2 separate regions of the Homo sapiens genome follow, and region 1 is linked to region 2. Evidence: fine-mapped expression QTL. A gene starts in region 2. The other region holds a variant in brackets. All regions are shown on one strand. Distances are from middle to middle. Region 1 holds the start of AMIGO1 (adhesion molecule with Ig like domain 1). Region 2 holds the start of SYPL2 (synaptophysin like 2).

Evidence for each region. PIP is the estimated chance that this variant, and not a neighbour inherited with it, causes the effect.
Region 1: its variant is the best candidate, but not a certain one, in a credible set for the expression of SYPL2 in spleen (GTEx, PIP 0.51).

What each region holds. Positions count from the first base shown.
Region 1 is chr1:109,509,635-109,512,370 of GRCh38, reverse strand. It overlaps AMIGO1 (adhesion molecule with Ig like domain 1), which reads left to right and starts at 2,644. Exons shown (of 2, transcript NM_020703.4): 1 at 2,644-2,736. It overlaps LOC105378893 (a long non-coding RNA gene), which reads left to right. Exons shown (of 3, transcript XR_001738179.2): 3 at 1,730-1,769. RefSeq lists a silencer at 2,641-2,736. The variant C/G (reference allele first, on the strand shown) is at 1,259.
Region 2 is chr1:109,465,439-109,468,450 of GRCh38, reverse strand. It overlaps SYPL2 (synaptophysin like 2), which reads right to left and starts at 1,905. Exons shown (of 6, transcript NM_001040709.2): 1 at 1,554-1,905; 2 at 1,318-1,392. The coding sequence starts at 1,607. RefSeq lists enhancers at 1,473-1,972, 1,973-2,474.

The sequences.
Region 1 (2,736 bases), 44 kb before region 2:
AGCCTGGCCAACATGGTGAAACCCTGTCATTACTAAAAATATAAAAATTAGCTGGGCATGGTAGCAGGCATCCGTAATCCCAGCTACTTGGGAGGCTGAGGCAGGAGAACCACTTGAACCCAGGAGGCGGAGGTTGCAGTGAGCCAAGATCATGCCACGGCACTGCAGCCTGGGTGACAACAGCGAAACTCTGTCTAAAAAATAAAAATAAAGAGGAAAGGGAGAGGAGAGAGCCTGGAACAACACTGGGGTGAAAAGAAAATATGCAACATGCAGATGAGGGGTGGGGTGAGAGGAGCATATGTTTCTCAGGAATATTTGTACAAAATAAAATGATGACATTTCTTTAATAATTATTGAAATGGGTGATGGGTATATGGGAGTTCATTGTACTATTCACTTTTGTGTATGTTTGAAAATTCTCAAAATTAAAAAATAGATGTAACTTCAGAGATGATGTGTGTGATAGCCAGCCTCCAAGATGGTCCCAATGATCCTCTCTTCCTGGTATTTGTGCCCTTGTGTAGTTCTTCCATATTGAATCAGGAATTGCATATGTGACCAAAGTGGAGGTGATATCCATCACTTCAAAGAGCCAGATCACTGTGACTTCTGTCTTGCTGTCTCTTGCATCTCTTGCTCTGAGGGAAGTCAGCTACCGTGTTGTGAGGAAACTCAAGCTGTCTTGTGGAGAGACCTTTATGGATAAGAATAGAGGTTTCCTGCCAACAGCCAGCCACATGAATTTAAGTGAGCCTCTATGGCCCCAGTGAAGCCTTCTAATGACTGTAGCTCCATCTAACGCATAACTGCATGAGAAACTGCCAAGCCAGAACTGTCCACCAGACTGCTCTTGAATCTGACCAACAGACACTGTGAAAGGCAATAAATGTATATTGCTGTAGGAAGTCACTAAGTTTTGGGGTAATGTGATTATGCAGCAATAGATAACTGATGCAATGTGATTTCAAGATTCTTCACACCTTGTCCTCCAAAAAGATTACCCTCCTCATCTTTTCAATGATGCCTGAAATGAACAGAACAGAACATCTTTCTCTTTTTTCTTTCTTTCTTTCTTTCTTTCTTTCTTTCTTTCTTTCTTTCTTTCTTTCTTTTTTTTTTTTTTTTTTGAGACAGGATCTTGCTCTGTCACCCAGGCTGGAATGCAGTGACACAAACATGGCTCACTGCAGCCTTGACCTCCAGGGCTCAAGTGATCCTCCGACCTCAGCCTCTCAAGTAGTGGGCACCACAGGTG[C/G]GTGCCACCATGCCTTTTTTTTTTTTAAGAGACAGAGTCTCACCATGTTGCCCAGGCTGCTCTCGAACTCCTGGGTTCAAGCAATCCTCCTGCCGCAGCCTCCCAAAGTGCTGGGATTACAGGTGTGAGCCACTGCACCTTGCAGAAAGACCTTTTCACACTATGCATAAGATTAACACGCTAATACTCCTTGAAGAGATAATATATTCACTAAAATTCATGGTAAAACATGTGACAGATATAAATTCTTTTTAAAACTCTTAGCAAGCTAATCTACTGAGACATTAATTTCAGTCTTGATCTTGCTGTTATAAGAGACTGGAACAAATAAAAAGGTAATTTCTTATGGTCCACCATCTCAAGAACAGCTAACATCTTGAATGATAAGGTCTAGGCTCTTCCTGCATCTCTCTCTTTCCTCACCCCCAAACCCAAACAACATACACTAGTAACAGCTTCTTGTTGTTTCAGGGGCCACCCTAAAGAAGAAACCCCTCCACCTCCACCACTGGCCTTCATCTTGAGGATTAGGTAACAGAGAAACTATGTTGCAATTGCTCCATAAGGGGAGTGGGGAGCTGGCACTGGTTTAGGAAGAAGGCAAGTGGCCAGACCTAAGGGCTGAATGACTTCCTCCGGGCTGGGAAGGGTTTCGGAGTTTCCAGGAATGGAAATTGTCCCTGGCTTGTATGCAGTCCGTGTGTGTGTGTGTGTGTGTGTGTGTGTGTGTGTGTGTGTGTGTAGCAGGTGGAGTGGGGAGAGGTGCATGAGGTGTCTGTAAAGGGGTGTTCTGGGGCCTGGGCTCACCAAACACCCCCTTTCCCCTCACTCCTGCGCAGCTGGCTTGCAGGCTAAGGAGCTGTGCCCTTCAGTGGTACCTCAAGGGTCATGAACTAGTAGCATCAAGACGGGGGTGGGGTGGGGGGAACCCCTCCCCCAATTTTTGAGACCCCACAGCCACAGAGAGAAGGGAGGGGGAACCTCAGAATGTGACTAATGAATTTCCCGCCAACATTGGCAGGCGGGAGCTGAGCCAGATTTCTTCAATTTGCGAAATTAAAAGACATGTGACGCCTCTTGCCCGAGTAGGTGCAGCGAATTCACTTTAGTTAGACTTTTCCTGAGAGCCGGTCTGTGTAGCGAGAAGGGTGCTGGGAGATGGGGGAATGGGGGATGGAGGAAGTTATAGCGGAGCCTAAGGGGCCAGTGCCGCTCTTCCTGCCAATTTTCGTCTTTAGCTCAGCGTCCGGAGCTCGCTGGTTGAGGGAACGACCCCGCGCGCGTCCGCCCGGCCGGCTCCGACACAAACACACGCACGTGCGCCCCGCCCCCGCCGCGCGCACGCGCCCCGAGGCTCCGGCGGCGGCGACGGGCGCGCGCGCGGTGCTCGCTGCCCCCACGCCGCTCCCTCCGCTGGGATCGCTGCGCCTCCGGCTCCCCGCACCGATCCGCGCCAGGCCTGCGGACCTGGAGGCAGC
Region 2 (3,012 bases):
AGGTCCCAGAGTTTGCACTTGGGAGCTCCCAGGCTGGCCCGATAATCCCAAATGCACTTTTGCCCCTGGGTTCCAGATTTGATTATTCTCATCCAAACCATGATTTAAGAACTGGTGTCACAGTGCTAATTCTTGTCTCCAAAGCCCTGTAGAACTCAATCCTCCTCAGTATTAATGGTAACTTATTCCCTAGCTGAATTCTGTACTGAGAGCACATTAATTAAGTTATTCACACACCATTTGGTATGTGGATTGTCTAATTTAAAATCTCTTCTGCAATAGTGCACTAAATGCCCCCTACAAGTCTTTATGATTTGAGAAATTGACTGCACCTGTCCACATTCCTAATTTATACCCAGGAGGCCTTAGGCACTGGCCTAGTGAAGCAAGATAGTATTTCCACTAGACTGTAACAGGGGAAACTGAGGACCTGAGCAAGTGACTTTTTCAAGGTCACAAAGTAAGTCTAACCTAGGGCCATATTCTGGCACACCAAACTATTTAGAGCATAAGGAGACCCTAGGAAGGTTCTGATCAACATCTAACTAGTGTTGGAAATTGAAGTCCAGAGAAATGAATTGCCCAAGGTGACATAGCTGGAAAAGGCCAGTCTAGGTCTGGATCCCAGGGCCCCAGCTTCTCAGATCAGTGTTCCATTTTATTCTACATGCCACATTTTAGCCATGCCGTGATTTTTATTCTTATTTTTTTCTTTTATTTAATCATAGAACCACAAGCTCCGTTCATTCATTCATCCACTCCCTCACTCATTTACAGGAACTCGGATTACTCCAGTGACCTCAAAAGGGAACGGCGAGCCGAGAGCCTGTCCCCTGAGCCCAGTACTTGCAGGATCATCCAGGCCCTGGTGGGTTTGGGGGCAGGACGGTTTCCATCGCCTGCTTCCTTCCCTCCTTTGCCCTCTGCGGCTTCCCTCTTGGTGAAGAGCGGACCTCGTCCCCGTCGTCCTTCTCCCCCCTCCCGTCACCAAGGAGTGGTATGTGCAGGATCAGAGTTCTGGAAAGGTTACACCCGGGTCCTCTCGCCCGGGTGAAATGTGAGCGCCCTGGGCAAAGGCTCCTTGCACATAGAAGGACCGAATCCGGGACTCCGCATGCCTCGCTCTTCACCCTCCTGCCACTAAGTCCGGAGAAGCAGCCCCAGCCCGCCCCTCCCCCGCCCACCTGTCGCCGCCCCCCACCCTTCCGCCGTGGCCCGGCCGCAGCACCTCCCCAGCCCCCACCCTGGCTCCATTGCTTCAGGTCAGCGTCACAGCCCAGGCTCCCGAAATAGCCCGGGGCCGGGGCAGCGACTCACCCACTGGAGAACTTTGATGAAGCCCAGCGGCTCCTCCAGCCGCCGCCAGCGCAGCCCCACGAGTAGGCGGTCCACCTGCGGAGACACAGCCGGCCGGGGGGTCAGGGCGGTGGGGAACCCTGGGAAGGCGCTGGTCCCCTTGCCCCACTCACACGCGGTCCAGGGGTGGGATAAGTGTGCAGCCCGACATCTAGGTGGAGAGGGGCGGGTGAGAGTCCTGGGCGCGCAGGGACTACCTGCTGGCGCGGCGACTTGTCCGCCGTGCGGCCGGCGCTCTCGGTCGAGGACATGCTGGCGCGGCGAGCGCTGGGCGCGGCGTGGTGGCTTGGCTCTCTGGCCGGGAGGCGGCGGACACGGCGGGGGAGCGGGGAGCTGCAGGTCCGGGGCAGAGCAGGCGAGCGGGGCCGGAGCGCGAGCGGCCGTCGGTGGGCCGGAGTCCAGTCTGGCTGGCTGGCTGGCTGGGACGCGGGGGCGCTGCTGTTCGTGCTCTCAGAGGCTGCGGCCGCCGCGGTGCCCCGCCGGCAGCAGAAAGCCCCCGACTCGGATTCAAACTTCTGTCAAACTCGCAGCGAACTTGGCCGCCGGGTCACGTGGCGTGCGCTCCCGAACCCTCCTCCCGCCCCCTCTGCTCCCTTTCTCCGCTCGCCGGGCACCTTAAAGGGACCAGAGGCCTCCGTGGTTAGTTCCGCCGCGGGGCGGGGGGGACTCCGGGTCCTCCTCGCCGAAGCCTCCGGGACCGGTCCCCACCGAGACACCGCGGCCGTCGGAAACCCTAGCCAGGCGCACCTGGACGCACAGGCTTCAGGTTTATCCTTCCCTATTTTCCTGGATTGCAAACTGCCCAGCGCCGGTTTTTCTCCTCTTCCATACCAGAATATCCAGAACGTAAAAGATTCTCAAAAGGCACGATCAGGGCTGTGAAACAAGGTTCTAAGCCTCACGATTAACATACCGCCAGTACCGACAAAAGGGCGATAGAATATAAGCTGCTGATTTTTTATCCTGTCTAGCTAGGTATTGTTTTGATTTTTTTTTAAAACAACAAAAGACATTTGTATGTTAGTGATTTAAAAGTTATTGGCCAGGCTTGGTGGCTCACGCCTGCAATCCCAGCACTTTGGGAGGCCGAGGCCAGAAGATCACGAGGTCAGGAGTTCGAGACCAGTCTGGCCAACATAGTGAAACCCCGTCTCTACTAAAAATACAAAAAATTAGCCGGGTGTGGTGATGTGCGCCTGTAATCCCAGCTACTCAGGAGGCTGAGGCAGGAGAATTGCTTGAACCCGGGAGGTGGAAGTTGCAGTGAGCCGAGATCGCGCCATTGCACTCCAGCCCTGGCGACAGTCCAAGACTCTGTCTCCAAAAAAAAAGTTATTAATCTTTAACAAGTAGAAACTTAATCTCCTTTAAAATGGTCATTACCATTTAAATGAGAGTGAAAAAAGGTCTTTGAGGAATGAGGCGCAAAGAATATATTGAAACGTACTGAAAAGTTGACGTCTGGCTAGGCGCGGTGGCTCAAGCCTGTAATCCCAGCACTTTGGGAGGCGGAGGCGGGTGTATCACTTGAAGCCAGGAGTTCGAGACCAGCCTGGCCAACATGGTGAAACCCTGTCTCTATTAAAAATACAAAAATTAGCAGGGCGTGGTGGCACGTGCCTGTACTCCTAGCTACTCCGAAGGGTAAGGCACGAG